4 linked regions of the Homo sapiens genome follow. The protein of the gene in region 2 interacts with the protein of the main gene of each other region in a pairwise test. Each region holds a gene or a part of one and is shown on either strand. Other genes may lie near its edges.

The links.
Region 1: the proteins of TRIM62 (region 2) and FAIM interact in binary tests that used the Homo sapiens proteins (3 or more experiments, as listed by UniProt).
Region 3: the proteins of TRIM62 (region 2) and EPN2 interact in binary tests that used the Homo sapiens proteins (3 or more experiments, as listed by UniProt).
Region 4: the proteins of TRIM62 (region 2) and UTP25 interact in binary tests that used the Homo sapiens proteins (3 or more experiments, as listed by UniProt).

Annotation. Positions count from the first base shown.
Region 1 is NC_000003.12:138,618,497-138,626,561, forward strand, and holds part of FAIM (fas apoptotic inhibitory molecule 1), read left to right. Parts: intron 1-1,214; coding exon of another isoform or gene 1,215-1,230; coding exon 1,231-1,274; intron 1,275-2,910; coding exon 2,911-3,043; intron 3,044-3,691; coding exon 3,692-3,920; intron 3,921-8,065. UniProt on the Homo sapiens protein: Plays a role as an inducible effector molecule that mediates Fas resistance produced by surface Ig engagement in B cells.
Region 2 is NC_000001.11:33,144,426-33,151,635, forward strand, and holds the end of TRIM62 (E3 ubiquitin-protein ligase TRIM62), read right to left. Parts: intron 3,303-7,210; coding exon 2,752-3,302; 3' UTR 974-2,751; downstream 1-973. UniProt on the Homo sapiens protein: E3 ubiquitin ligase that plays a role in antifungal immunity by mediating 'Lys-27'-linked ubiquitination of CARD9 downstream of C-type lectin receptors; leading to CARD9 activation, followed by activation of NF-kappa-B and MAP kinase p38 pathways.
Region 3 is NC_000017.11:19,281,731-19,289,795, forward strand, and holds part of EPN2 (epsin-2), read left to right. Parts: intron 1-224; 5' UTR 225-347; intron 348-1,219; 5' UTR 1,220-1,389; coding exon 1,390-1,984; intron 1,985-3,889; coding exon 3,890-4,060; intron 4,061-8,065. UniProt on the Homo sapiens protein: Plays a role in the formation of clathrin-coated invaginations and endocytosis.
Region 4 is NC_000001.11:209,823,055-209,831,762, forward strand, and holds the start of UTP25 (U3 small nucleolar RNA-associated protein 25 homolog), read left to right. Parts: upstream 1-4,917; 5' UTR 4,918-5,009; coding exon 5,010-5,116; intron 5,117-7,053; coding exon 7,054-7,093; intron 7,094-7,748; coding exon 7,749-7,989; intron 7,990-8,708. UniProt on the Homo sapiens protein: Component of the ribosomal small subunit processome for the biogenesis of ribosomes, functions in pre-ribosomal RNA (pre-rRNA) processing. Essential for embryonic development in part through the regulation of p53 pathway.

The sequences.
Region 1 (8,065 bases), on a different chromosome or scaffold from region 2:
TCTCTACTAAAAATACAAAAAATTAGCCGGATGTGGTGGCATGCAGTTGTAGTCCCAGCTACTCAAGAGGCTGAGACATGAGAATTGCCTGAACCCAGGAGGCAGAAGTTGCAGTGAGCCAAGATCATGCCACTGCACTCCAGCTTGGGGGACAGAGTGAGGCTTTGTCTCAAAAACAAACAAAAAACTTTTTAATAATTTGTGACTTCTGGCTGTTTCCAGACAGAAAGGGTTAGCAGTCTCCCATTTTTAACCAGGAGAGAGCATTCTTGAGCATCTGTAGGAAACAGGCACTAATTAAGGAAAGGGCTAAACTAGGATAGATCTTGGAAGCAAAAAATAGTTGAATTTAGGATACTTTGGCAGGAGTGAAACTGTTAATCCCAAATCTTCAAATGTGAGGGTTTCCTATGCATGTGAATTTATGTGCACTTCTGATTTTAGTACAGCTTAATTAACACTGCAGCCCAGTTACTGTTTAGTTCATTGCATAGTACAGTACTGGGCTCTAGTTCTGGGTTGGATCCTGCCAGTTACATGAGCAAGGCACATAACTTTTGTGGATTCATCATTGGCACTAGTAAATTAAATGGGCTTAAGTAAGGGGATAAATTAAGTTCACTCTTTGAGAGCAGACCAGCATATCCCTGTCTGCTTCTTGCAAACTCATTAGTTCTTTGAAGTTATCTAAACAGATTTTGAAAGTTATGTTCCACCATAGTGTAGCCTTCTAAAATAAAGATTACATTTTAAATTAGTTGCCACTTTAACATTGATGCTCCCAGAAGATACATTGTGTTTATCCTGGAGTTTGATGTATTCCCTGACTCATAGCCTTGGGGCTTCTTACGCTTCAACTTGAAAAGCATAGGACCCAGAGGATCTCTTAGGTCTCTTGCAGCTCTGATATGCTATAACACTTGCAACAAAGGAGAGTTTGTTCTTTAGTTTTGATAAAGTATACCTTTAAGAAATTATAAATCCATAACAGGGAAAAATATGACTGACTGATTTGCATGATGTAACATCTTTCTCTGAGAATTAAAGATTGCAATTCTATTTTATGTAGAAGCTGTTTCATCTGAAACTCCATGTAATTTAATAAATGGATTGCAAAATTAGAAAAACCCTTTGTAGATGTCATCATTGTTGCTTTCAATCTTTCTTTGCTGCAATTCTGCTTTTTTCTTTCCTGGCTGCTAATTGGATTAAAGACTGTTTTTGCCAACCATGGCATCTGGAGATGACAGTCCTATCTTTGAAGATGATGAAAGGTAAATGTCTTATATTGCAGTAAACTAGCCTTTGACATTTTCAAGATTGTTATCATTCAAAAGAGTGATTTATCCAAGATACTCTGTTAAGAATACATTTTGTAAAATTGCAGAATACATGGTTCTGCTTTTGTGTGATTTAAAGCAGGAGTAGTAAATACCTGGCGTGGAGGTAGCCACTAGAAACATGGCATCCATTTCAGTAGAGCCTTGATGTGAGGTCTTCTCATTTCTGTCAGCACAGAGTTCTTGGCAACCACTTCAAAATGATATAAAATCCATTTACCATCTTCAGTTTAGAGCGTACAGAGGAGATTAGGGCGAACAAAGAGGAAGATGTAGTTAAGAGAACAGGCTTTGGAGCCAGAATCCTAGGTTTAAATCCTACCTCTGCCACTTAATGTCATTGTGACCTTAGGTAAACCCTTAGCCTCTCTAAGCCTCATCTGTAAAATAAGGATACTAATAGTAGCCATCTCATGGTGATTCTATGAGTTAATATATTTAAAGCTCTTAGAACAATGACTGATACATAGTTATCACTTAATAGCTGTTAGCTATGATTATTATTACTGTAATAAATGATACTTCTGTCAAAGCTAAAAAGATACACCAATATCAAAATATTAATTAGATATTATGTATTATGTCATTCACATAGGATATATTAACATCAAAAATATATGTTGAAGTATATGCCAGAAATCTCTGACAAACCAAAATCCTTTATTTATTTCTTATTTTTGAGACAGTCTCACTCTTTCACCCGGGCTGGAACGTGGTGGTGCAATCATGGCTCACTGCAGCCTCAACCTCCTGGGCTAAGATGGCTCTCTTACCTCAGCATCCCAAGTAGCTGGGACTCCAGGCATGCGCCATCACGTGTGACTAATATGTTTGTAGAGACAGGGTTTCACCATGTTGTCCAGGCTGGTCTGGAACTCCTGGGCTCAAGTAATCTGCCCACCTCAGTCTCCCAAAGTGCTAGGATTACAGGCATGAGCCCCTGCACCCAGCCCAAAGTCCTTTATTTTTTTAAAATAAGATTTCCTGTAATAATGCCAAGAATATTTTTCATAACATTTAAAAATTATTTTTATCTTTATTATAGGGCATTTCTTCCATGACTTTTTTCTGTCTTAGTATAATAAATTAGAACCTTTTTGTTAAAACAAATCCCTAGTGCGAGTTTAAGTATGGGAGGTTTGGAGAGTTCTTGTTTTAGAGTGATTAGACCTGAAAAAGAGAAATAAAATTAATTACCATGGTTTTTACATGGGAGCTGGTGGGAGAAGAATAAAGACTTTTTACTGACCTTTCCATGCACTATACTGTAGCCTAACCTAGAATACTGACCAGGATAAACTGATGCATTCTTAATCCTATTAATATTAAGGTGGCTTTTTTTTAGAAGTAATCGGACTATGTACCCATATATAGTAGTTGTATCTTAAAGGAAGAGTGAATAAGAGGGAGAAAATAGTTACATGTACTGTGAGTAGAATTTCTTAGGTACTGTCACTTTAATATTTTGACATTTTAGAGGTTTTAATCTAATATTTTCATCTTGGAAGGATTAATTGGTTATTTAATTAGTATTTTGGCCTACTATAATTGCTTTATTTTATTCCTTTAGCCCTCCTTACAGCCTAGAAAAAATGACAGATCTCGTAGCTGTTTGGGATGTTGCTTTAAGTGACGGAGTCCACAAGATCGAATTTGAACATGGGACTACATCAGGCAAACGAGTAGTATATGTAGATGGAAAGGTAGGAAGAAAATATGTTACTTTGTAAAATATGATATATAGAGAAACTTGATTTTGTTAAAGTAGCATCTTCATATGTGAATTCAGGGCTTTTTTTTCTTGTAGTCATGTTTTTGATCTGTATCATTTTGCTGTGTAAAGCAAACATAGTTATAGAATTCATGGAATATAGCGTGTAATATTTAAACTTAAAATGCTTTTATTTTCTAAAACCTTGGCATCATAAATTAATAAAATTACATCTTTTTTTTTTCTTTTTTTTGAGACGGAGTCTCGCTGTGTCACCCAGGCTGGAGTGCAGTGGCGCAGTCTCAGCTCACCACAACCTCCACCTTCTGTGTTTAAGCTATTCTCCTGCCTCAGCCTCTCAAGTAGCTGGGATTACAGGCACCTGCCATTACGCCCTGCTGATTTTTTGTATTTTTAGTAGAGACGGGGTTTCACTGTTGGCCAGGCTGGTCTCAAACTCCTGACCTCATGATCCGCCCGCCTCAGCCTCCCAAAGCGCTGGGATTACAGGCATGAGCCACCACTCCCGGCAATGAAATTATATCTAAATGGCATTGCCTTTGTTCACTTTACGTTATTTCTAAAATTAGATATCAATTTTTCTTCCATTTGTTTCATATTTTTCTGTTTTATTATGTAGGAAGAGATAAGAAAAGAGTGGATGTTCAAATTAGTGGGCAAAGAAACATTCTATGTTGGAGCTGCAAAGACAAAAGCGACCATAAATATAGACGCTATCAGTGGTTTTGCTTATGAATATACTCTGGAAATTAATGGGAAAAGTCTCAAGAAGTATATGGAGGACAGATCAAAAACCACCAATACTTGGGTATTACACATGGATGGTGAGAACTTTAGAATTGTTTTGGGTAAGTTAGTGCTGTTTCCGCAGAACTTTTTTTTTTTTTTTATAATGTCTGTTTAATTCCTGTAACTGTATTCAGACCTTCTATGGAGGTTTGAAAAGAAGAGGGAGTGTAAGTGCAGGTGTATTTCATTTGTTTAGAAACATTAAAAAAATTTTTTGTTTCCTATCTGCTTGGGATTGTCTAGCAGGTGTGTATATTGTCCAGCAGGTGTATTTCTAATGTGTCCTGAGTAAATGAAGCATTCATTTAATCCACCATTTTATATATAAGATATCTTAAGCCAGGTTTTATAGTGATGGATTTGAGGATTATAAATTTAGGTTTTAAAAAAATGTAATATTGCCAGGCGCAGTGACTCATGCTTGTAATCCCAGCACTTTGGTAGGCTGAGGCGGGTGGATCACCTGAGGTCAGGAGTTTGAGACCAGCCTGGCCAACATGGTGAAACCCCGTCCCTACTAAAAATACAAAAATTAGCAGGACATAGTGGCACATGCCTGTAATCCCAGCTACTCGGGAGGCTGAGGCAGGGGAAATCACTTGAATCCAGGAGGCGGAGATTGCAATGAGCCGAGATCGCACCACTGCATTCCAGTCTCAAAAAAAGCAAGACTCCATCTCAAAAAAAAAAAAAAAAGTAATATTGATGTAGATTTTGGTATTATTTGGTATTTCTCTTTATAAATATATCTTAAAGGCAGTTGGAAATTTAGGATTTATCAGTAAGAAAGCAATATTTTCCTAGATAACAATAGGCTTAGGACTGCATCAGATCAAAATTATCAAAGTCTAGGACTTTTTGAAGAGTTTTTTTTGTTTGTTTTTCTAGGCTTTTCTGTTTGGGTTTCTCTTTTCTTATGGGAAGCAGATATATATCTTTTCTTTGCCCATATTCCTATGTCTTTTAGCAGTTTTACTCGTGTTCTCTATTGCTTGGAATTCTTTTCATTCTTTTATGTTTTTGAGACAGAGTCTCACTTTGTCGCCCAGGCTGGAATGCAGTGGTGTGCATGAACATGGCTCACTGCAGCCTTGTCCTCCTGGGCTCAAGTGATCCTCCAGCCTCAGCCTCCCGAGTAGCTGGGACCACAGGTCCATGTCACCATGCCAGGCTAACTTTAAAAAAATTTTTTGTAGAGACAGGGTCTTGCCATGTTGGCCAGGCTAATCTAGAGCTCCTGGGCTCAAGTGATCCTCCTGCCTCAGCCTCCAAAAGTGCTGGGATTACAGGTGTGAGCAGCTGTGCCCACCCTTCTTTTCATTCTTAACAACAATATTCTTGGAAGTCTGTTGCCCTCCTGTTCTAAGTATCCAAGTCTGCTGCTTTGTGGCCACCCTAGGCTTTCTTTCATGGAACCCTTTTGTTCTTCCAGTTATTGAACCCCACAACTCCTGCTTTCATCTTTGTTTACTGGAATATATTCCTTAGGTAATCTCCTGATAAAGGGTGTCTAAGAAATAAACATTACTTTGATCCTCATGCTAAGTTGATAGTTTTGTTCAGTACAGAGTTTTAATTTCAAACTCACTTTCTCTCAGAATTTTTGAAACCCTTATTCCAGTAGCTTCTATTCTCCATTGTTTTAAATGAAAAGTTTTGTGCCAATCTGAATCTCATTTTTTTCTTTCCAGAAGGTTTTGGGAGCTCATCTTATCCCTTATATTTCCAAATTTCATAGTGATATGTTTAGGAATATAGTTACTCAACCTGCAATAAAGTTTTAGAACCACTGGATCTCATTAATAATGGAAATTTTAGTTTTTAAAAGGATTATGATTAGTGTCAACACACTTAAACATATGGGACTTTAACAGATGATGAAACCAGGCCTTTAAATTAATTTTAGGTACTTAATCAGCTGCTTTGCCAACTTGTAATACAATTGATATTAACTTTTCCTAGGTGAAATGGAAGAGACTGCCTGAGCTATGCCTAGCATACAGTTAGTTCTCTTTTAAATGTCCAGGGGCCTGCTTATCTACTTGTGAATTATCTCGGGTCTTTAAAAAATATATTTTTCTGCTTTTACTCCTTGTCTGCCTTTACTCTTCTTTATCCATTTGCAATCCCTCATGAGCCTGGAAATGAGACAGAGTTCAGCCCCAACTTGTCCCTTTTGCTGTTTGGAAGGGATAAGGGACCAGAGTTGTTTACTGAGGTAAAGGCAAAATTGCATATGTTATTGATATTGCTTGCACTTCTGCTTCCAAGATCCATCAAACTTTGGACTATGCTGACTACAGCCTACATTTTACAGATTAGTTATGAAGAATGCAGGCTCCAGGATCAGAGCTGTGTGATGGGCAAATTACTTAACCTCTGAACCTTGGTTTCCTCATCTGTAAAATGGGGATAATGTAACTCCCTCACAGAGTTGTGATATGAGTGAAGTTTAATTGATTTAGTACATGTAAAGTACTTAACAGTGTTTCTCACATTGTGAATTCTTTAAAAATATTATTTGTCAGCCAGGTGCAGTGGCTCACACCTGTAATCCCAGCACTTTGGGAGGCTGAAGTGGGAGGATCGCTTGAGCCCAGGAGTTCAAGACCAGCCTGGGCAACATAGGGAGACCTCATCTCTTCAAAATATTTAAAAATTAGCTAAGTGTAGTGGCACATGCCTGTAGTCCCAACTACTTGGGAGGCTGAGGCGAGAGGATCACTTGAGCCTAGGGGTTCAAGGTTGCAGTGAGCTAAATTGCACCACTGCATTCCAGCATGGATGACAGAGTGAGACCCTGCCTCAAAATTTTAATAATTTGGCTGGGCATGGTAGCTCACACCTGTAATCCCAGCACTGTGGGAGGCCAAGGCAGGTGGATCACTTGAGGTCAGGAGTTCGAGACCAGCCTGACCAACATGGTGAAACCCCATCTCTACTAAAAATACAAAAATTAGCTGGGCGTGGTGGTGGGCACCTGTAATCCCAGCTACTCGGGAGGCTGAGGCAGGAGAATTGCTTGAGCCTGGGAGGCGGAGGTTGCAGTGAGCTGAGATTGCGCCACTGCACTCCAGCCTGGGTGACCAAGCAAGACTCTGTCTCAAAAAAAAAAAAAATTGATAATAATTTAAAAATATTATTTGTGGTGATTATTACTACTCATGGGCAAAGAATGGGCTTATCTAGAGTCTCCTGGTAAAATTCACTCTTGTATGTTATGTGGCAAGTTTCAAATAACAATATTATATGACTTGCTAAATTTTATATTGAGAAATTAGAGCAAGGCCACAAAAAAGCTTTGAATAACAAAACATTATGATTTACTAAGGTCATATTATGTGCCAGATACTATACTAGGCACTTTATATAATTATTTCTAACCCTTATAACAGCCTATGGGAAAGGTGGTATCATCTTCATTTGCCCCTGAGGAAATGGAAGCTCAGAGTGGTGGTGACTTGCCAAAGGGTACTGCTAGTAAAGAGTGATGCTGAGAGCTGACCTCAAAGATCATGTGCATTTTTTTTCACCACCTAAAAAATGTGAGGCATATAAGGGCAATGAAAACAGGGTTGGTTAGCATTCTCAGCTCTTGTAGTCTCCACACCACTGAATACCATGGGAGGAAAATAAAGCTGGCAGGAGGAAAGTACATATGAAACTTCACGCTGGAAGGAAATTCTCTTTCTGTTCTGAAAAGTTTCTCTTTGATAGCATTTACAGAACATAACCTGCTCAGGACTCACCTGGGAAGTCCCTAGCTATTGTTCATGCGGCTGAGGGAATCCGCAGGCAAAGAGGAGATGCTCCAAGATGAACATGCAGCAGCAACTCCCATGAGTCACTAAATCCAGCACTGAGTCATAATAGATTTGAAATTTTATCAGCTAGATATGTCCTTTTATTAACATACCACTTTGAATAGGTTACATACTCAAGATTCAGAAATCAAAATGCTATTAAAAGACACATTAAAAAGTCTTGCTTCCATCCCTGTTCCCATCTGCCATGTTCCCCCATCAAGATAACCATTTTTAGTGTCACTCTAGTGTTTCTTTATTCAGATTCAAGCGAGTACACATATTCTCTCTTACCACATAAAAGCATCTTGCTTTATTCACTTATTATATTCCGAAGATCCTTTTATATCAGAACCTAAAGAACTTTTTCATATTTTTTATAGCTGCAGAGTAAATTTCAA
Region 2 (7,210 bases):
CTGCGCCCGGTGGCTTTAATGTTACTTCTGAGCAAGTGTGATGTGATTTTGCGTGTACTAAACCTCCACCACCTGTATATAAGCAGTGGGCTAAAATACTGTCCTGGGCCCGACTGATAGAACCTCTCTAAAGGGCCGCTGCTGGGCTCTAGGCCTGTCTATAGTACTCAGTAAGACTTCTAAGTAAAGTGAACTTTAATTCTTTAAAAGCTTGATATTTCTTCTTTAGTCGACAGTCTTTTCCACTTAAGTGTGCACAGCCTGTGTGTCCACATGCAGAGCCTGTCCTAACTCCCAGCCAGGATGCTTCCTCATCAGTCAGAGGTGGGATGGACCTCAGGATGGTCCTGGTCTAGGTGGTTCCATACCCGTCACAGCCCATAAGGAGAAAGACAGACTTCTTGGGTCAGAGCCAGCCCAGAGGTTCAGGAAACCCATACAGCTCCAGGCACTGACTCTGGGAGGCAGCTGGGGGGATAGGGTAGGGCCTCCTTAAGTGCACTGCACTTTACAGCTTACCAATAAATTATGTGAAATTGGTATCCTCATCTTCCATGTGGGAAAACTGAGTCCCAGAGAGGGTGGTCATTTTTCTAAAGTCACACAGTGATGGAGCCTGGATTTGAGCTGAGGTCTGTGTGGTTCCCGAGACCAGGCTCTTGCCACTGCCCCATGAGCTGCCTGCTGCCTGCTCCCAAGACTACCACCACCTCTCCTCCAGGTAAAGACTGACAGCCTTCCCTGGCTGGTAAGTTTTTGGACAGGTTTGTGGTGTGGCACTTGCCAGCATGGGATATGGGACCCCAGGTAAGTCTTGGCTTCTCTCTGAACCTCAATTTTCCTCCTCTGTAAAATGAGCATAATACCATTTACCCAGCCGGGCTGCTTTGTGGATTAGCTATGCTCATGTGTGTGCACTGCCTGGGACAGAGCTGGGTGGGCCTGTGTGTTTGTCAAAATGAATGGAACTGGCTACTGACATCTGTAACTTTAATTTAATACAAATTGATCATAACTCATAAAATGGGCAACATTTTAAATAAAAATACTGCTGGGGTGGCCCAGATTCTGGTAGTTGAAGGGTTGGGGTAGGGCTGACAATTCCTTTTGCCCAAGGGAGGCCCGGGTGGCGGGGGCAGCCATTTTAAGAACCCCCTGTGTTTAGCTCTTCCGGCTACTTTGGGATGGTGTGTTGTGTCAGAGACCCCAAGTGCAGAATCTAGGCCCCAGGACTAGAAAGAAAAGTCAAGGCCGGGGAGACATTTAGGCTCAGTCTTGCAGCCCACTCCTCCAGTTCCCACCTCTGGGCAGGGATAGAGCCAAGGGGCAGGACAACCCTAGATGTGGACTCCACCCTCTCCCGAGTTCTTCACGATTGGATGCTGTGGCAGAAAAACGCAGGTGGGGCTTGCTCCACCCACCCTAACTTCCTTCTAGGGAAATGACATTTCCCAGACTCCCTTGCAGCCAAGGTTCTGGATCTGACTTAAGTTCCCCCAAACAGAATCTCTTGTAAAAATTTAGATTTGGGAACTGAGTGAAGTGGGAGAGGGGCAGGCCTCAGGACATCTATTGGCTGGCACGGACCGTGGCAGAGGGAGCCTAGTTCTGCAGTCAGCAGCTTTCTGGCATAGTGGCTTCCTGCAGATGGGGGCAGCTTTCCTGGTCACAACAGACATGATGAATCTGGCGCTGGGAGTTCCTGGAAATTCAGCAGAGTCTGCTTCTCCAGCTCTTCCAACAATTTTGCAAGCCACCAGGGGCCAGGTAGTAAATCCTTGTCTAATTAAACCAGCTACAAGTGGCTCTTGTTTTCTGCAGCAGGATCCTAACTGAGATAGATGCCAAGTCTGACAAGGGGTCCAGCCAACAGCCCCTCCCAGTGCTTGGGTCCTAATTACAACAACTGCTTCTGGAAGCCTCCTGCACCCTAGCAGGTCACAGAGGCCTGGCTGAAGAGGGTTGGCTGGACTCTTGTTCAGAGCTACTGGGGACCTCGATCATCCAGGGAGGCTTGTCCTGCAGTTGCTTTTAGGCTAATGGGCTCTGCATCAGCTTTGGGTATACCCTCACCCTGTCCCTCGGCCTGTGGGCAGGAAGGTGGTGGCACATGACTATAATGTGTGGACTCAACTACCAGGTGCCTTCCACAGGCCACAGCATCATCACTGACCAGCAGATCAGTGGGAGAAGTAGGAACCATATAGTTCTTGGTGTGGGGGTGGCAGGAGAGGTTGGCTCTCAGGCAACCCTAGGACCAGGTACTACCTGTGACCACTGTGGACTGGGGTCAAGGGTAAATGGCCCATCACTAGCTTGGTCAGGGGTAAGTCTTAGGCCATGGGACATAAGAGGGTGCTGTGTGTCTTTCGGGCTGCCAACTACTGGCCATGCTCTGACACTTCCTGAGGTCAGGGCTGGGCTGGAGGGAGACACTGGAAGGTAGTCCCCTGCCCCTGAGAAGATGGGGATGAGGGTTGGGCAGGGGTTGCCCTGAGGAGAAGCCATGTCACATCCTTGGATCAAAGCTGTATCCCTATCAAGGTCAGAGCTACAGAACATCGATGCTGGAAGAGAGTTTAGGAAGTAGGGAATGCAACCTCCATTTTACAGACTGGAGGCTGGAGGGTAAACAACTGGCCTGAGGTCTCCAGTGGCCACGGTGGGCTGGAGTCCAGGTCTTCTATCTCCTGGGCAGGGCTCTTGCAGGTGGCAGTGGTCCCAGGAGGTTGTGGTCTCCTTCTGCCTGGACTAGATGCGGACGGTGTTGATCCGCAGCGGCTGAACGTTCTTGCCATTGGCGTGGCTCTGGCCAGGGCTGAAGTAAGAGCAGAGCTTGCCAGGGAACTTCTCGCGGAAGGTGTAGAGCCAGGACATGTCATCAGCATTGTAGAAGATGAGCAAGCCTTGGTCATAGTCCAGGAAGACACCCACCTTGTCAAGCTTGTCCCGGACGTTAAGCCGCGTCCAGGGCTCCGTGCAGGCGCTGTACTGGTTGCCATCGTGCATCACGATGCAGTAGAAGCCGCGGCTGGGCTGGATCTGGATGCTGCCCTTGCGGCTTGCGGCTTCGTGTGCCAGCCCGATCACCCACTGGGTCTTCTCCGCCACCACCACCTCCCAGTAGTGGACGCCACTACTGAAGGCTTCAGAACCCAGCACCGACACCTCCACATCGAAGCGCTTTGGCGAGTCCTGCAGTGGCTGTGGGTGCAAGTTGCCGTAAGCCACAATGGTGCAGTCGTCCGACAGGATCAGGCGCTGGTGGGCTGTGCCCGGGTCCAGGGTTAGGGCGGCTGGCACTGTGGGGGTTGGAGGAGGGAGAGAAGATGAGTGGGGAGAAGGCTGTGGACCCACCATGCAGTGCCTTCCTGAGGGCAGAGTTCTGGTTGGTACGCAGGAGGCCTCTGACCTGCTGTGTGACCTTGAATACAAGTCTGCCCTCTCTGGGCCTCATCTTCCTCCTCTGTAGAATGGAAGGGTGGTGGTTAAGGTCCTTCCAGATATTGTCTGCAGGGGAGCAGGGGCTACAGCTGCTTGTTCACTGCCTGATGCCCAGGGCGGAGCACATAGTGGGCACTGGCAAATGTTTGTTGAATTAACCAGAATGAGGCCTAGAATTGGGGAATTTTAGAGCTGGAAGGGAGCTTCCAGATGATCCAGTTGCTACTGCCCCCTAGGGGGAATGGGGAAATTGGTGAGTGTGTTCAGGTTGTCTTAACAACAGCTGGGATCCAGGGATGCTAAAGACCACGAAATGGACAGGACAGTTCTGCAAAGGGAAGTTCTGCCCCACACCTTCCCCGACTCCCAGTGATTTTCACGTGTCCCAGCAGACATTCATGTGGATGAAAAATCTTTTTTATAAGGATAAGAAACTATAACCTAACTCCATTTCATGTATAAACATGAAATTTTTTTTGCAGTTTTAATATATACTGAATATTTCAGAATGCAACCACTGTGTAAATGAAGGGAAGGCTGCATTTGTTTTGTTTGGAACTTCCCTAAGAACTGTTTGCTTTGTTGGAAAATACATCCCTAAGGGCAACACCACTGACTGAGACAACCTACCTGTATAGGCATTTGAGGCAGGATGGTGTTTTACCTATGACGAGAGGACCTGGCTGCTTTGTTAGGTTTTCTAGTGTGATTGTGGGTGAGCATCTACATGTTGACATACAAAATATTTTATTATTAATAATTTCCTTCTATTTTCCTTCATATTAATAGTCAGAGTATGTATCTATGTACATATACACACACAACACTTGAAATTGTGAAAAGGTTACACTTGAAATTATAAAAAGGTTATATTATCTTTGAGATATTACACATGATTTGTTATGAAAAGTAGACAATGGGTCTGAAAAGATTGAAAACCATGAATTCTAGGCCAACTCTTCCATTTGACAGATGAGGAAACTGAGACCCAGAGGGGAGACATGACAAACTTAGGTCATCCTGCAAATATTGGCAGAGCCAGGACTAACCAAGGTCGTCTGCAATCTAGCGCCAGTCCTTTCTCCCAGCCAACCTCTCACTTCTGCCCCCTACCCCACTTAGGTCCAAAGCCTCTGCTTACACGGTTCCCTCCACCTCCTCCTCTCTGCTTGTTGCAACCACCCCCAGAGGCTCAATTCAAAAGGCCCACCCTTTGGGAAGCCTTCCTGGTCACCCAGCAGATGTGCTCGTTCTGTCCTCTGAAATTCCTTTTGCCTCTTCTTTTTCTTATTTATTTATTGGAGACAGAGTCTTGCTTTATCCCCCAGGCGGGAATGCAGTGGCATGATCTTGGCCCACTGCAACCTCCACCTCCCAGGTTCAAGTGATTCTCATGCCTCAGCCTCTCGAGTAGTTGGGATTATAGGCACGCGCCACCACGCCTGGCTAATTTTTTGTATTTTTAGTAGAGACAGGGTTTCGTCATGTTGGCCAGGCTGGTCTTGAACTCCTGGCCTCAAGTGATCTGCCCACCTCGGCCTCCCAAAGTTCTGGGATTACAGGCATGAGCCACTGTGCTGGATTCTTTTAAAAAAAAAAAATACAGACAGGGTCTCACTCTGCCACCCAGGCTGGAGTGCAGTAGTGTCATCATAGCTCATTGGAGCCTCCAACTCCTAGGCTTAAGTGATCCTCCTGCTTCAGCCTCTTGAGTAGCTGAGACTATAGGCATGCATCACTATGCGCAGCTAATTTTTAAATTTTTCATAGAGATGAGGTTTCGCAATGTTGGCCAGGCTGGTCTCGAACTCCTGGCCTCAAGTGATCCTGCTGCCTCAGCCTCTCACAGTGCTGGGATTATAGGTGTGAGCCACTGCACCTGGCCTGAAATTCTTTAGCTTTATTTGTGCCCTGATACTGGCGTGGGGTATTATCTTCTGTGATCACATTTTGCCCTATTTCCCCATTTGCACCAAGAGGGCAAGGACCGTGTACTGTCTAATGGGGCTCTCCCTTGTGTGTCCAGAGCCCAGCCCAGGGCCTGGCTTGTGGCACATTTCCGGAAAGACTCACCAAATTAAACTGGCCATGTTTGTGTTGGGCAGGTGGCATGGGCTGCATCACCTGGCTCTGGGCTGGCCACACCGGCTTAGCAGGTCTGACTAAAAATTTCATGAACCCTTGTTAAGACCTCTGTTTACTCTCTGCTCCCTGAGGGAGCTGATAACTGGCCAGAGGAGAAGGAGGAAACTGGGATTGGCTTTCCTTAGCCTGAATGACCATTTCCAGGCAACAGCAAGACAGAGATGAGGAAAAGTGGGAAGAAGGAATTGCCTCTGTTCCTTGGGGTCTTGGACATCCAGCTCTCTGGCTCTTTCCTTTACTGGCGAAGTGGGGACATGGTTATGCTTGGCTGGAGCATTCTCCCTACTTCAGTTGCCTCTGTTGGCTGCACTGATGTGCAGAAATAAGATGCCTCAATGATGGGGACTGTCCCCAACAGGGAGCTACAGCCAGTCCCTGAACTGTGCCTCTGTTCATATACCCACTGGACCAGTGACCTATATCAAGTTCCTTCCATGATCTTTGCCAGGAGTAAGTTTAGTTTTGCATTTTACCCTCTTTGTTTCTGTCCTTTGGACTTAGAGGGCTGTATGGAAGTAATTAGCCTTGTGAATAGAGGGGTCAATGGAAACACAATCCTCTGTCCAGGGACATAGAAGACGGGGAACCAAGAGAGGACGGCCACTGAGTTGGTGGCTGGATGTTTCACCCTGTGGTCTGACTGGCCACAGGCAGCTTGTCAGAACCAGGGGGCCCCTGCCTGGTGGAATGTGGGCAATTCCCACAGTGGGGTCGGGAGGTGGGAGTGGGAGGGAGCTGTAGGAGGAGTGTGTGGTAGGGGGAAGAGCTAGATTGAGAAGAGGAACCTAATCAGACATAGGTGGGCCACCCCTATGACAGTGGGATGTGGATCACACTCAGGTGTGACAGTGGAGGGGCAGAAGAGCGATGCACAGTGCCCAGGCATGAACAGCAGCAGTTCAGAGTGCTGGGGGAACCTAGGCATGATATCTAAGGCGCCTGGGTGATTTGAGACCAGCAACAGGCAGCAACCGAGGCTCAGGGCAGAAGGACTGGTGCGGGGCGGGGGGTACCCTCAAGCAGGTATAAGGGCTCAGCTTCAGACTTGTAGCTTATGTAGGACAATGTGAGCCACTTGTGGTGCCACTGATGAGTGGGAGGGCACCCTAGGAGGGAGACAAGGGGGCTCTCCGTGGGTCTGAGACCAGTAGACAAAGATAAGCCTGCAGATTGGAGGAAATCCTGACCCAGTGAATGCCAGCCCTGGCGAGCGGACCTGTGCTGCTTGAAGCCCAGGGGACAGGATGGGTACAGGGCCTGCCACTCACTGGGCCGGCCTAGGGGCAGGGCCTGCCACTCTCTTAGGCGGGGGTGTGGCCTGACTCTTAGGAGACTTCTATACCCCAAGGGGTGAGGCTGGGGCAGGGTGTGGCACCCTGGCTGAAGCCACCTCCAAGGCCTTGCACGAATCATTAACACAGGGTCTTGGCTCCTGGGGCTCCCTCCCCGAGGCTAGGGCTAACAGGAGTAACAACCTTCAGACCAGAAAGGGACCTAGAAGGGGCATGGCAACACCCCTTCCCCCTCTGAGAAGTCAGTTCCTCCATCTGTCCCTCATCCCCAGGAGGTGACAGGCCCAGCAAAACAAGCGCAGTCCCTGGGGGCTCACTATTCTACAGGT
Region 3 (8,065 bases), on a different chromosome or scaffold from region 2:
GGGTGGGGGGTGGACAGCCAAGCAGGTGGTCAGAATGGTGGGTGGAGCCCCTTGCTTCCTATCCGGGCCCTAGCTGTCCTAATCTACCTGGGGCAATCCCTGGAGACTTCTAGGGCCTCAGTTTTCCCATTTTATAGGTAAGGAACCTTCATCCCCTGCCAGACTGTGGCCTTCTTGAGGGCAGGGACTCTGTTTTTAATCTGTAACATTCATTTATTTAACAGTGTTCATTTCTGTGTCGGGCACAGTGCTAAGTGCTGGGTGCTCACTGGTGATGAGGCAGATGAAGGTTACCAAACTTGTGGACAGGAGCCTCATATCAGAGACGTGGACCTCACTGTAGCCTGGTAAGTGAGTGTTATCTGGAGGAAGAGAGGGGATAGATGATGTGTTTGGTTGGAGCGAGTTAATAGATAGCCAGGGGTCTCAGTTTTCTTTGTGAAATGAGGGGCTGGGCTATAACCAGATTAGTTTTAAGGCTGTATTAGCTTGGGCCAGATGCTGGAGGCTTCTGAAAGCCAAGTGGAGGTCTTTATCCTTTTTCTAGAATTGCTGTTAGGAATCTTTATAAATTCTTGAACAGGGAAGGTCAGGCGAAAAGTGGTTGTCAAGGAGAATTTTCTGGACATTCGGAAACACAGTGGACCAAAGCAGTTTTGAAGGTATTGACAGGCATTTTTGAGTTAAGATAGACCTGAAATTAGTCTCTTTCTTGTCCTCATGTGTATTTTTTTTTATTTAAATAAACTTTAAAAAAATAGAGATGGGGGTATTGCTGTTTTGACCAGGCTGGCCTCAAGTAATCCTCCCATTTCAGCTTCGCAAAGTGCTGGGATTACAGGTGTGAGCCACCATATCTGGTCTCACATGTAATTTTAAATCTGCCAAGATCAGCTTCCCCCAGTGTTTCCGATTCTTCCACAGCTGGCTTTTGCCAGGCAGTGAAAAGACAACCCATAAAATAGCCATTCCAGTGGAAGTGTTTTGAAAATAGAGCAATAGTCATGATGTTTACTTCTTTTCTCCTAAAGGCTTAAACTTGAGTGTAAGTTTTATTCATTGTTGACTGGTGATATTGATTTTATCTTGGGTTCGTCCTAAGGAGGCTGGGTATGTCCACTCAGCTCCCCAGTTTTACCCAGTACCTGCTGCTGGACCACAGTCTCCCACCCTCACAGGGGGCTTACGTCGCAGTGGAATGGGTTTTCTCTTTCTCTAGGTCATGGCTTCCAGCTTTTCGAATCTGAGGCTCCAAAGGAGGAAATGACCATTCAGGGATCTTACTCCAGCTTGATTACGGAGACTGAACCTTCATAGGGTGCGCACTTACCAAGGACAGGAAGGTTTCTCTGTTTGAAGGGCTTTAAACTTATAACAAAGAAAATAAAAATGACGACTTCGTCTATCAGACGGCAGATGAAAAACATCGTGAACAATTACTCAGAGGCAGAAATCAAAGTCCGGGAAGCCACCTCCAATGACCCGTGGGGCCCGTCCAGTTCTCTGATGACCGAGATTGCCGACCTGACCTACAACGTGGTGGCCTTCTCGGAGATCATGAGCATGGTGTGGAAGCGGCTGAATGACCATGGCAAGAACTGGCGGCATGTGTACAAGGCGCTGACCCTGCTGGACTACCTCATCAAGACAGGCTCCGAACGTGTGGCCCAGCAGTGCCGGGAGAACATCTTCGCCATCCAGACCCTGAAGGACTTCCAGTACATTGACCGAGATGGCAAGGACCAGGGCATCAATGTGCGTGAGAAGTCAAAGCAACTGGTGGCTCTCCTCAAGGACGAGGAACGGTTGAAGGCTGAGAGGGCCCAGGCTCTCAAAACCAAAGAGCGCATGGCCCAGGTTGCCACTGGCATGGGCAGCAACCAGATCACCTTTGGGCGAGGCTCCAGCCAGCCCAACCTCTCCACCAGCCACTCGGAGCAGGAGTATGGCAAGGCCGGGGGCTCCCCGGCCTCCTACCATGGCTGTGAGTAATGGAAGTGCTTCTCACCCTTTGCCAGAGCAGCAGCAATGGGTGACAGGCAGGGTGGGTGTCTCTGGGCTTAGGGAGTGGTGGCCACTGCAGAGCTCGAACCTGTCCTCAGTACCCAGCTTTTGGTGGCCCAGGCAAATTGTCCTTGGTCTGGATTGAGTTTTGGTTATAAAGGGACTTTTAGTCCCTTGGCTGCTCTGGTTCAGGGATCTCTAACGCCCTTTGCTGCTCTGGGCCTCATTCTGTACATCTGGGCAGACGGTGGGCAGAGGCAGGTCTTTTCTGCTTCCTTGTCAGAATGGGTCTGGCAGCAAAGGAGTTGTCCTGCTGCACATACAATGGGGAGTTGACTCTGGTAGCCAGGAGGAAACAAATGCTCTTTCTTGATAATCTTGTTTCTTTAATCTCATATTAAGTGTTTTTCTGCTGACTGAGCTTCAGGTCTCTTGAATGGCTCAGTATTATTCTACTTCAGCAAAAAAACTTGTACAGGTTGCTAGTGTGAACAAGGCCTCCCTGCCAAACATGCAAATGAGAGTTGCTAGTGATCTGGTTGCATGGCTGGGTCTGCATTGAGTTCTGGTTTTGCATGTTGGATTAATTTGGGTCTTTGCCTTATGGTCAGAAGAGGTTTCAGGGAACAGAGTGGAGTTCAGGGCCTGATGGAAGCTGGTCTCTGTGAGTCACATTGGCATCCTGGCTGTTCATTGGAAGTGGTCCCCCAACAGGTGTTTCTCCATTTTCACAGTGCTATTCCAGCCACAGTGTGGACCCCACACTCAGAGAGACAGGTGGCCCTAGTGGCCTTTGGGGGACAGGGTGAGGATGGAGGTGGGGATTGTAGAAATTATATCTTCTGGCTGCTAAAACAAAAGTGCAGATCCCTAGTAACACTATGTCAGCATAGCAGAAAACTTCTTTTTAAAGGAAGTTGTCTGTAGTTTGACAGACCTCAGTCAACCCTTACTTAGTCAGTGTTCTGTTACCAGACCATTTACTAACATTTCCTGCTTTTGCAGGTTTCGATTTGACATTGTACCGCCACCACTAGCATTTTGAGAAATGTGTTAAATGAGAGATTTGCATATTAAAGTCAGATTTCCTGCTTCTAGGAATTCTGAATTATTACCGAGCTTGGAGCAGGTTAACATATTCTTGTCCCATATGTAGTTGTCATTTTTCTTCTTAGTTTGAACTGTTTTGCTTAAGCAAAGGTTGTGACCTTGGTTAAACCACTTGAAAACAATTTAACCTTAATCTCCAGAAGCCTCAATGCAGGGTTAAATTGCACCAAAACAAATGAAGATTGCCCTTTAAGAAGTGAAATTGTTTTATTTCTCTCAAGGATCCTCTTACCAACCCCCAGAGAGGCTCTCTTTGGATTGAGTTGGTCCCAACCTGCCTTGACTTCCTCTGTCCCTGTGACTGTGGCTGTGGCTTTGATGCAGGCCAAGGGGAGCTGCCATTCTCTTTATGTGCTTTTCATGGTCATTATTCTCAAGAAGCCAGAGGATGCTAAGCAAGGAGCTGAAACAGCTTCATGTTCCATGAACAATTTGTGGAACTTTGCAGATGCAGGGGTTGGAACAGTGGGGATGCAGGAGCCTGGTTTGATCCACCCCTCCTCCTCATACCGAGTCCAGGGCCTGTAGCCATAGGTCCTGCTGGGCTAAATGATACTGCTGCAGTTCCAGCTGTGATGTTTTTGGTTCCCTCAGACCTTACGCTTGAGCTGCATGTTCAGGGTCAGAATGTGGTCAGTGGGCTTTTCACAGCTTCCACCGCAGTGGGCTGCGGGGTTGACCCCGAGTGGCCTTGGCCCGTACCTCCTGCAGGGGCTGCTGCGCACCCTCTAATGGCGTGTCTCTCTGTGTGTGTGTGTGTGTCCCTGCCCCACAGCGCCTGAGGCCTCGCTGTGCCCCCAGCACCGCACAGGGGCCCCGCTGGGTCAGAGTGAGGAGCTGCAGCCACTGAGCCAGCGCCACCCCTTCCTGCCGCACCTGGGGCTGGCCTCCCGCCCAAATGGCGACTGGTCCCAGCCCTGCCTCACTTGTGACCGCGCAGCCCGAGGTGGGACGGCGGTTTGCTTTTTTCCTTACTAGAAATGCTGGGCAGCTTGCTGGGGGTGTGCTTGCCATGCCAGTACAGCCAACTCTCTCCCTGTCTCCTCTGGGCCTGGGGGTTTGGCCTCCAGCAGGCCCAGGAGCCCTTTCTTCCTCTCTCCTGGGAGCTTGTGGCCTGGTCGTGCTCCGCTTCCAGGATCACATGTCACTTGCTAGAAGTTCTGTCAAAGGTTTAGCAGGGGAGCTGTTCTTTGGGTAAGGCATGGGGTGATGGCCCATGCTCTCCCCATGCTCCCATTCCCTGACAAACTGGAGGGGGCTCTGCCACCTATCAGGCCCACCCATGGTGGTGGGTCAGACAACTTGGCTTGTTGGACCGGAAATGTGTGATTTAAACCTCACAACACCAGACAAATATAAGATCCTCAGTGATGGTCATTGGAAGCCATTATCCTTAATGCAGTAATGTATGCCTTGCCCTGAATAAAATGGGATTTTTTTTTTGCTTCCCAATTAACTGCTGTTCTTCCTGAAATCCCTGTTACCATGGAAAACAGAGAGTTAGCTGTACTGTCAATTCTAGGTCACGGTGTTTGAAGATACCTAATTCAATGGGTAACTAAAAATGGGGCTTCTCTTTCTACTAATTAATAATGTATCCTGATCAGAGCCTTACAACTGTAGCAGGTTAAACTGAAAACAGATTTTCACTGTTTCCTACAAGAAAATGCTCTCAGTCTACCATTGGTCCCAAGTGGGTTCTCTGCTACAGGGAAGAAAGGTGTCTGTTCTCTTCTACTCTTCTTACAAGAAGGGGCACGACAGAGAGCTTTTGTGCGACTTCCCTGATAAGGTGACCAGCCTTTATTCAGCCCTGGAAACAGTTACAGTTCATTCATGCCTCATTAATATTACAGCTTGTTTGACTTGGGTATTTGTGTAATAACTATATTTAACTCTAGGATATTTTCCTTCATGTCCCTGTTTTCCCCTAACAGTTTATACAGGATTTTGGCTTCTTCTAAACTGACATTAGAAAACGTAAGGAAGGCCAGCTCTGCACTGTAAAGAATGTAAATGATAAAAGCATTCGTTAAAGGGTCACCCAGAGGCATTGGAGTTACATGCCCATTTCACCCCCCCAGATAGTCAGAGGCTGCTGTTCTCAGCAGGTCCCGCGGAACTCTCCATGGAGTTCCCTTTTTGTTTTTCCCATGTTCTACCCATTTGGTAACTGACAAGGTCTGTTTTGAGCCTTGGTGGCCAATTTTGTGTTACCCTGGCCCTCTAGCTCTCCCGCTGGCAAACTGGCTTTCCTGGGACGTTTGCATGTTAAATACAGCCTGGCAGGCCTGCAGGCTGGCCATCTTCCCCCACTGCGGCTGTCTTTGGCCCTGCCTCTGCACCTTCGCCTGTGCCATTCCGTTCTCTCTGCTTGGATATCGCTCCCACCACCTGCCCCCTGTTCCCCCAACCTGGCAAGTTGCTTAAGGTATCCACCCCGTGTGGATTTATGTTGTCCTTCAGCCCTGATAGGAGTTGAAGATAAAAATGAGTATTTTTTTCTTTGAAGATTTCTCATGCCCCAGATGAGTTTTGAGCAAACAAGTGTTATATGGATTGCATTTCATCCTTTAACTGTTGGGTGTGGCATCCTCTCCACATCTCACTCCCTCCCCGTCAGAGGGTAGGGGGCTGTCGGAGTCCAGGGCAAAGATTCTGGCCATGTTTCTTCTCTGTTCTTTCTTGATGCTTCACAAAGGGTTGAGTATAAGGTAAGTGCTTAATCTATGCACACCAGTGGATTTGTTTGGAGCACACCTTCTTGGAAATCAGCAGTGGGAAGGTCAGAATGATGCCGGCCATTCAGAAAACTGTCAGGTGAGATGCAGGCTGTGATTCAGGAGAGATGTTTGTGAGGGGTGCATTTGGGACTGCAGACCCCACAGAGGCAGAGGAGGCAGACTGCTCAGAAGCCCTCTTCACATGAGAGCAGCCACAGCCGGGAAGGCCTCTTGTGTGACTGGCGATAATCATGAGGATGTCTGAGGAGAGCTTTCTTTCATGTGCCATATGTCATCTCATCCTCCCTGTGCCCCTCCCTCTCTCTCACCTCCCACATAGATCTGTAGATCTGACCTTGGAAGTCTCTTGAATTGTCCATCTTGTTCCATGGCCTCAATTCAGTGCCAGCCTTCTGACCAATTTCCTGCTGTCATTATCTCCCAGTCTCACCTACCCTCCATCTTCATAAAGGATGCCCTGGTCCTGAGTCTCAGCCCCTTTAGATGCCAGGCCCTGCAGGGCCATCCCAGAGCCTTTGACGTTGCAGACCTCAGTTGCTTCCACCAGCTGTGTCCCCTGCCCTCAGTCTGGGGGTCCTCCTGTTCCGGCGGAAGCATTCCAGACCTTCCCAGGCCTGCTGACGTCTGCCTGCAGGCACAGCTCTGGGCTTTCCTTTTGAAGCCTGGTCTACCTGCCCTCTGCTCTGTATTTATTGAGTTCCCATGGGGCACCAGGCACTGAGCACAGAACAGAGCCCCTTGCCCTCGTGGAGCTTATATGGTAATGGGAAAGAAAAACACAATATAAATTATTCAGCATGTTATGTAATGAGCGCTCTGGAAAACAGCAAAACAAAAACAGTCTTGCTTGAGTGTCTTTGGGGAGGTAAGAGAGGGTGGCTTGCAGTATGAATGGATCAAGGATTGAAGGAGTGTGAGGGTGAGCCTTGTGGAGGTTGGAAAGAGCCTTCCAGGCAGAAGGGCAGCTGTGCAAAGGCCCTGAGGTGGGAGTGTGCTCAGGGTGTTTGAGAAAAGGCAGCCAGTGAGGTGGCGATGAGTGACGGAGCATGGCCAGTATGTGGGGGTGGAGCGTGGCAGAGGTGGGCCTGGAGGAGGTGTGGGGCAGGGCCTCTCAACTCTGTCTGGTTGGGAGCATTCCTTGAATTCCTAGTCCATCCAGACGGGTCCTTTTGTGTCCATGTTTAGATGTTGTGCCGATGTCATTGCTAGGAGCTTTTGAAACACTTTCACTGTGCTTACCTTGCAGACCATGCACTCAGTGGCCCGGTGCTGGGCCTTCTGGGTTTATGTCAGAAATTTCTTTGACTTTCACTCACAGTGAGATGGGGGAAGATGAGGGTTAGGAGGATCCCTTGGGGTGTGTATGGGCAAGGTGGGAGCAGGGAGCCAGGTCAGGAGGCCACTGTCCCCATCCAGGTGGGAGATGGTGGGGGTCTGGACCTGGCAGGGCTGCAGAAATCTGGGCAGTAGCCAGGTTCTGGGTATGTTTTTTTTTTTTTTTTTTTTTTTTTTTTGAGACAGAATCTTGCACTGTCACCCAGGCTGGAGTGCAGTGGCACGATCTCCGCTTACTGCAAGCTCTGCCTCCCGGGTTCACGCCATTCTCCTGCCTCAGCCTCCCAAGTAGCTGGGACTACAGGCGCCCGCCACCACGCCCGGCTAATTTTTTGTATTTTTAGTAGAGATGAGGTTTCATCATGTTAGCCAGGATGGTCTTGATCTCCTGACCCCGTGATCCGCCCACCTTGGCCTCCCAAAGTGCTGGGATTACAGGTGTGAGCCACCGCACCTGGACGATTCTGGGTATGTTTTAAAGATGACCTGACAGACCTTGCTAGAGGACTGGGCAGAGTGAGAGGGGAGCTGAGGATGACTCTGAGGGCTGGGAGCAGAGCAGCTGGAGGCAGAGCTGCCATCATCTGAGATGAGGGCGGCTGTGGGTGCAGTAGGTTAGTGGAGGGGTTGAGTTCAGGACACATCGAAGTGTCTCCTAGACACGCAAGTGGAGGTGTCAAGAAGGTCTGAGAAGTCTGGAGTTGGGGGGAGAATTCTGGGCTGCAGGCACACTTTGGAAGTTGTCAGGGCATGGACAGTGCTTATAGCCGTCAGCTGTTCGGCCTCACCTGGCGCTCATGGTTTTTTTTTTTTTTTTTTTTGAGATGGAGTCTCACTCTGTTGGCCAGGCTAGAGTGTAGTGGGGTGATCTG
Region 4 (8,708 bases), about 180 Mb from region 2:
CCATGACAATGTCATTCTTTGTTAATTGCTTTGTCTCTCAACTAGACTCTGAGGTCTTCAAGGGAAAAGTCTGATGTTTGAGCTTTTTAAATCCTTCATGCCCAGTGTCATTCTTGGAACACAGTAACTGCTTAGAAAATGCTTGATAAAATGAATGAATGTATGAACAGCTGAGCCCTTGCCGCAACAGACGAAAAATAGTATGTAGTTATACCAACGTCCCACTAGAGGGAGCAATGCAAAACTTGATGCCCTCTAACAGCATTTAAGGCTTGTTCTCAACTAAAGTAATACGATAAAATATTTTCCATTTTAAGCTAAACCTAATGTAAATCAATCCCTGATACACCTGATGAAACATATTTATAAATGTTCACTATATTCCAGGTTCTGAGTTTCACAGTGGATACTTCTTATGGGTACAGATGAATGGAAAGGGCAGGGGACATATGTACTCATATTTTGTATTTTTATGTTATGTAGCGTGCATCACAAAGCTTTGCTCTTCGCAGACATAATCTCACTTCTAAAGTCTGCTCCACCTAGAAGCTTATTGCTCCACGTACAATAAATTCTGTGGAATCCGATGACTACACAGCTTCTTAATTTCCTATTGTCCTATATCCGTCATATCCTGTCTTGAACACACACACTTACTGTGGATGAGGTCAGGAAACACAACTCATACAGCCTCATATCTATAATTTCGATCAATTTTGAGTTCAATACTAGTGTTCAATGAATGTGTCTGGCTGACACATGCTCAGCCTGAGACCAGCATCCCCCCACCTGAGTAAATGTGTCCTTGCAGATTCCTTAGCATCCAGCATTGTTCAGTTCAGCATTCAGCACAGCGTATTGTAATTGTCTGTGTACTTACCTACACCCAGACAAGACTGTGAACGCCCTGAGGAGACTAGCATGATCTTATTCTTTCTCCTAGCTTTGGCTGCCAGCACCTAAGTGTTAGGTAAATATTTTTTTAAACAAGTAAGCTAATTCCATAATTTTATAAGGTAGTGAGAGAGTGATTTCTGCCAGCAGTCTCGGGAAGAGGCTGGATTGCTTTGGGTCTGTACACAGACATGCGTGTATACATGTTGTAGAAGAGCTGGTCTTGTATGTAGGAAACTGTCTACTTTAAGGCTACTAGGAAAGCACACACACACACACACACACACACACACAAAATCCTTCCCTAGAATCTTCCCAAATCAGAAGCTGAGGTGTCTGACTTTCACCATTAGAGAGTCATACCTTTGGATATACATGGCTTCCTCTCAACATATCTTGAAACTATGTGACCTTGTTATCAAAAAAAAAATAAATCTCAAACATCCCCAGCATCTGAGATGTATCCTCAAGCAGTGTTCCCCCTAGCTCTGTTGAGAATCTCAGATAGACCCTCTGCTTACTTTCTGTATTTTGCATTATAAAGTGACTGACTTGTGTCTTTAAATATTTATAGCTATATGTCAAGTAAGTACTTTCAAATTATATATATCATGATATTTACAATTAGAATATATCAATTTGTAGAACTCCATGAATTCATAATGATACTAAAAATAAAAACCAAAACTTAATTGGCCACCATTAAATCTAGTGATCAACTTCTTACCTTGAAAATTGGCAAATGAAGGGAAAGAATCAAGCATTTATTCTTTCCTATATAAACTGTACCACTGGGTAACCAAAATTTAATTAAGGTAGAAATTTGTCTTCACAACAAGAATTCAGCAACTAAGTAAAGAATAAATGACAGAATCAGAGTATCACTCCCTGAAATAGAATTATAATGTATTCATGAATTAATGAATTTAGACATTGAGCATCAATGTCTGGTAACATCACAGAAAGAAAGGCAACCAGACATCATATGCCTTCTGATGGAAGTACAAAATACCAAGTATAACAAAGTGTGATCAAACTTCTAGATCCAACAATCAATTCATAAGAAATATAGAGAAGAGCATAACATGTTAAACCAACAAAGTATTTTTAAAAGACAACATTTATGAGACAATCAAAAATGTGAACACTGGCAGTATATATGATTATATTAAACAGTTAACTTCAGTGTTTTTTAGGTTGGATAATGCCATTGAGGCTACATTAAAAAAACCCTTAACTTTTAGAAATGCACACTAAAATATTTACAGATGAAATAATATGATGTTTGGGATTTGCTTCAAAAATAATGCAGAGTAGGGACAGGGCAGTGGTTGGGCATATAAATGAGACAAGATGGCCTTGAGTTGACAGTTGCTGAAGCTGGGCAATAGGTATATGGGAGTTCATTCTCCCATTTTGTCTACTTTTGTATACACTTAAAATGTGCCATATAAAACATTTTTTTCTTTTAAATTATTAACTGATTCCGAAACATTCTGATATTCTTGTCCTAAGGGATAGCTATCCTTCTCCCACTCCTTGAGATCATTATCCTAGAGAATCTTCTGGAAATTGCAAATATCCCAAGGAAAGTAACTTGTTAATTCATTAACAGCTATCTGTAAACTAATACAGAGGGTTATTTCCTGGACTGCCTTTAACACTGAAAATATGGAGTTCCTGTGAGTAGAAGTAAAAGAAAACGTTGGGGGAGGGAAACGGAAGGGCAGAGGGAGGGAAAAAGAAGAACAAATTTTGTCTTCATTACAGTTTTCCTAAGGCCTTCATTTGTTGGCATATACATCATCGTTGTGCAGGTTTTACTAAGAGAACTTTCACGGGGGGGCGGGGCGGGGAGAAATGCTTACATTCTTGGCTCTTAGGTTAAATTTTCACAAAGGATCCCTTTTTATGTTGTCAAAGGATAATATAAATATTTTTAGGACAAAAAGGGCTTCTTTTTCCATGACCCAGTGAGCCAATGATGAGACTGCTTGGGTGGGGCTAGGGTAAATTTTTACCTGAACCTGAGAACCGTCTAGACCTGTACACAAGACCACAAGGGTGTGGAAACCGGGAGAGTAAGAGTCACCTCAAGTGCTTGAGAATATAGCTTTCATAGAAGATCTCTGGAAGAACACCAAGAAAGTGGCTGCCTCTGGGGAGGGAAACTGGGGCACTTGGGATATGTTGGGAGGGGGAAAAAGGATGGCTCTTTATTGCTATAGCCAAGTTATACTGTGGTCAGCACCTTAAAATATATGATGACATCTTGCAAACAGGCTTTTGTTGACCTAAGTGACTGTACCTTTTATCTTGAAATTACATAGAAGACAAATGGCTATTTATGGGTTCCTTGGCTGGCCCAGCTGCTGGGCACCACCCGCTCTGTTTGCATGTGTTCCTCATATTCTCCGGCCCTGTCCTCCCATCCCCACCCCAGCCTCTCCGAATCTAATTAGGAATAGTAGATGGTCACTAGAACTGACAAGAATCGCATTCTAATGGTTTTATTACAACTTCTATGGTGTGACACAGTATCAGGGAAAACCCAAATTTCCCACAGTAGCACTCCAATAGCAGAGCTATTATTTTGCTTCTCATTTCTCTCATTTTGGACGCTCCTGTTTTACCGTAAATATTCAAGTGAATTCTGCGGCTTATGATTTAAGCACTCTGTTTCTATAGAACATGGTAGCATAAGTTACTATTAGGAAAAGGATCTCACCATCTTTATCCTGTGGTCTCAAGCAGCCCTGCACACTTGCAAATCCCTAGAATACTGAGTCTACTTTTATATTTTTGCTTTTTCCTGTTTATTTAGGTGTTATTTAAATACATTAAAATTCACCCATTTTAACTGTACAGTTTAACTTTTCTTATGTATACAAGGTGTAACTACTAGCATGATCAAAATGTAAGATGGTTCCTTTACCTTCAAAAGCTTTTCCATCCCCTTTTGTCCGAGTTCAGTTATGAGACACTGGATTGGGTTTCACAGCCTTTTCTAGCATTGACTGGGGTGATTTCAGTAAAGTCACTTTACCTCTCTAGATGTGTTTCTGCTGTTGTTAAATGGGGAATGCTGGAACAGATTTGTTTGCGGGGACTCTTCCAATACTTTCAGAAAATGCGAGAATAGGGTGAGGGTGGGAATCTCAGACTTGTGGGCCCCATGATTGATATAACACACACAGGCGGCAGACCCTAATGGGTAAAAGCATGTGGTTGCATCAGTTAAGGTTTTTCTCTCTTCTCTTGCTAGCGTGTTATCTTTTCTTTTCTTTTCTTCTTTTTTTTTTTTTTCGAGATGGAGTCTAGCTTTTGTCGCCCAGGCTGGAGTAGGCTGGAGTGCAGTGGAGTGATCTCGGCTCATTGCAACCTCCACCTCCCGGGTTCCAGCGATTCTCCTGCCTCACCTCCTGAGTAGCTGGGATTACAGGCGCCCGCTACCACGCCCGGCTGATTTTTGTACTTTTAGTAGAGACGGGGTTTCACCATGTTTGGCCATGCTGGTCTCGAACTCCTGACCTCAGGTGATCCGCCCATCTCGGCCTCCCAAAGTGTTGAGATTACAGGCGTGAGCCACCGCGCCCGGCCGCTAGCGTGTTATCTTTTCTAAGCATCAGTTTCCTTATCTGCAACACCAGGCTTATTAACAAGACCTATCTGTACACTGTTGTGGTGATGAAGTGAGATGTTCAGGCACCCTTAAATGTTGGTTGATATTTTTATTGCAGTATACTGTAAAGTCACTGCATTCGACTATCTCCGCTACTACACATTTACGCAGACTGATTTCCATAACCAAAACACAAGCACAAAGCTCATGCCCCCGACTCACGCAACCCGGGAAGCCCAGCTGCCCACGTTCTAGGGCTCTGAGAACACTAGTGAACGAACTCCCGTGCTTTCAAAGAGCTGCGGTAGGGGGCAGAACCGGGAACCGGATGTTCTAAGCCTGTCGTACGAGCGCGACGTAAAGCGGATCTGCTTTATGGCACCTTGCTTTCGCCGTAAAGCGCAGTCAGCGAGCCCACGTGCTTGTGTTGACTGGACAACTTCCTGGTGGAAAACCGCGACTCTTGCAAGTGGGCAAACTTGACGTTTTCGCTATGGGCAAACGCGGGAGCCGGAGCCAGAGCCAGCTACTCAACACCCTAACTAAAAAGCAGAAGAAACATCTTCGAGATTTCGGCGAGGAGCATCCCTTCTATGACAGGTCTGAAGGGGCGTGGCAGGGCTCCCCAGTCGCCAGAGATGTATCCTCGAGTTTGGTCCTCTGGTCTCCCAGATAGTGCTGCTCCGGCCTTTTCCCACTATTCCCTGGCTCCCGCTGTGCTCGGCCGGGGAGATTCTGGCGCCATCCCGCCGGGAGATGGAGTGCTTCACGGGCCTTTTTGTTGAGCCTGTAATTTCCTGCTAAGAGGCACGCCCGTTGTGTGGGGGAGGATTTTTTTTTTTTTTTTAAGACGGTGTTTCGCTCTGTCGCCCAGGCTGGAGTGCAATGGCGCGATCTTGGCTCACTGCAACCTCTGTCTCCTCCCGGGTTCAAGCGATGCTCCTGCCTCAGCCTCCCGTGTAGCTGGGATTACAGGCGCCCGCCACCAAGCCCGGCTGATTTTTTGTATTTTTAGTAGAGATGGGGTTTCACCATGTTGGCCAGGCTGGTCTTGAACTCCTGACCTCAGGTGATCCACCCACCTCGGCCTCCCAAAGTGCTGGGATTACAGGCGTGAGCCACCGCGCCCAGCTATGGGGGCGGATTTTTGTGTGGTCAGAGATCTAGGAATTTTTTGTAGACACACATATATATATGTATATATATAATTTTTTTTTTTTAAGACAGAGTCTCGCTTTGTCGCCCAGGCTGGAGTGCAGTGGCGCGATCTCAGCTCACTGCAACCTCCGTCTCCCGGGCTTAAGCGATTCTCCTGCCTCAGCTTCCCGTGTAGCTGGGATTACAGGCGCCCGCCATCACACCCGATCAATTTTTTGTATTTTTAGTTGAGACGGGGTTTCACCATGTTAGCTAGGGTGGTCTCGAACTACTGACCTCGGGTGATCTGCCCGCCTTGGCCTCCCAAAGTGCTGGAATTACAGGCGTGAACCACCGCGCTTGGCCTGTTTTTATAATTATTTTTAACTTACATAAAATGATTGTACATATTTGTGGGATACAGTGTGATATTTTGATAACAATACATGTACCCAATGTGTAATGATCAAATCCGGGTAATTAGCATATTCATCATCTCAAACATCAATTCTTTGCGTTGGGAACATTGAAAATCCGCTCTTCTAGCCATTTGAAAATATACAATAAATTGTTAGTTATAGTCACATCATATGTTGTGTGTGTTTTTAAAGAATTTGTTGGGACATCATTGATCTTTGCAATTACGATAAGGAACTAAGTGTATTAGTAGTTGTGGTTTCTCTAGAAATGTCTAGGTGCAGTTATGATCTCAATGCTCATCCCACTACTTTGGGCTGCTTTGTCATCAGTTAGGGACATTCTTTTTTTCTTTTCTTTTCTTTTTTCTTTTTTTTGAGGCAGGGTCTCACTTCGTTGCCCAGGTTGGAATCCAGTGCTGCAATCCTGGCTCACTGCAGCCACCACCTCCTGGGCTCAAGCGGTCCTCCTGCCTCAGCCTTCCCAGTAGCCGAGACTACAGGTGCACAACACAACTCCGGGCTAATTTTTCTTATTTTTTTGTAGAGACAGGGTCTCCGTATGTTACCCAGGTTGGTCTCAAACTCCTGGGCTCAAGTGATTCTCCCACCTTGGCCTCCTAAAGTGCTGGGATTCCAGATATGAGCCACCGCTCCCAGCTTAGAGGGACATTCTAATTAAGAAATTTGCTAGAAAAACATGAACCCCGAAATCTTTTATTTAGCCAAGTTGTATCCTTCTTTTGGATGAGAGCCTTGTGTGACTCTAGGGTTTGTCATGTGACCTCCTTAAACTTTTCATTTGTCAGTTATTAACCATATTCTTGCCAGCCCTGCCCAAGTGCATGTGTAATTTTTGCATGACTATATCTAAAATGTATTTATAATGTTATATTCTGCCTTTTTCATTTAACATCTCATTTGACCTTTTCCTAATTTCTACATACTAGTAGTTAGAATGTAACATTGCCTGTTTCTTTTTAGGGTTTCCAGAAAGGAAGCAAAGCCACAGATTTGTCAACTGGTAATGCTTTCTACCTTCTTTTTAATAGTTGGTTTTGGGTTGTTCCCACTAAGATTATATCTAATAATAAAGCTTGATTACATTTCTATTCCTTTTGATTTCAGATGCAAGCTATTATTTTGGCAGTATCACTTAATTTTAAATGCAGATGTCTATAAAAATGCCATTGTGATATCTAATACAGAAGCCACAGTTTGAAATTGTCCCAGGAGACTAGCCTATTAGGCCCTGTTACAGAGGCTTATCAGAGGGCTCTTAGTGAATCCTAAGAGGGAATATCTTTTTTGGTTAGCATAAAGGAGTCACAAATACAGTGCAAAATGAACAAAGGGCCTATCATATTACAACAAACTAAAAAAAAAAAAAAAGAAACCTGTTTTCTTTTGTTGTTTTGTAATTATCCTGTTGTTCTATTAAACCTGTGGCCTAATGCCTGGGACATAAATTAAATCTCATAACCTGAAGTTTTATGTTTTAAAAGTGGGGCAGTAGCAGTTTGGAGCATATGAAGAGCTTCTAGAATCATAGCTAGATTAGCAATTTTAAGTAAATTTGAATTTGGGCTTCGTTGAATAGATGTTGGCTTGATGATAGTTTTAGGGTAACAATAAGAACAATATAGTTTTTGTTCTTAAAATTCTCCTTTTCCTTTTAGTCAGAGAGTTCAGATTCTTCAGATTCTGAAAGCGACTCAGAGAGTGAACCACAACAAGTTTCTGGCTACCACAGACTACTTGCTACATTAAAGAATGTTTCTGAGGAAGAAGAGGAAGATGAGGAGGAGGAAGAGGAAGAAGACAGTATTGTAGATGATGCAGAAATGAACGATGAAGATGGTGGTAGCGATGTCAGTGTGGAAGAAGAGATGGCTGCAGAGTCTACTGAAAGTCCAGAGAGTAAGTGTCTTTACTATAGGCTCATCATCTTTGCCAGAACTATAGACAGTTCATCTCATGAGCATGGTACCTTATATACTGTGTGAGTTGGATGAAAGGACATGAATCCAAAATAGGGATTTACCCTTGTTGGGTTTGATTGTATCTTTGAGAATCTGATGGAAACACAGAACCTTCTTAGCACAGCTAGGCAGAAATAACATTTTTGCTTGTAATTTCAGGGACTTCATCAGTACTAGTGAAAGACCTCCTAATACAGAGGAAGGAGAACACAGTTCTGTCTTTGTGACTGTCTGAATTTATTGAAGAGGTTACTGTTCTTCTCTTAGGGAGACCAAGTTTGATGGAAGATAGACATAAATATATATAAAAAATTTCAAACAGTAGATTTGCGATTGCATGGAACAGCTAGATGTAAGGTGTTGAAGAGAGGCAGAGTGGTTGAACACTGCCAGTGTAAATTAGGGAAGGCTTCAGGGACTCTGTGTCACTCAGACTTGAAGGTGACTTTTTTCTTTAACTTCAAAATCACCTTCATTGAGGTATCATTTACATACAGTAAAACGTATCCAATTTAAATATACAGTCTGACAGGTTTTGACAAAGGTATACATCCAAATCAAGATACAGAACATTTCCATTACCTCCAAAAATTTTTCTTATCCTTTTGCAGTCAGTTCCCCACCCTTGGCATCAGGCAGCCACTGACCCGCCTTCTG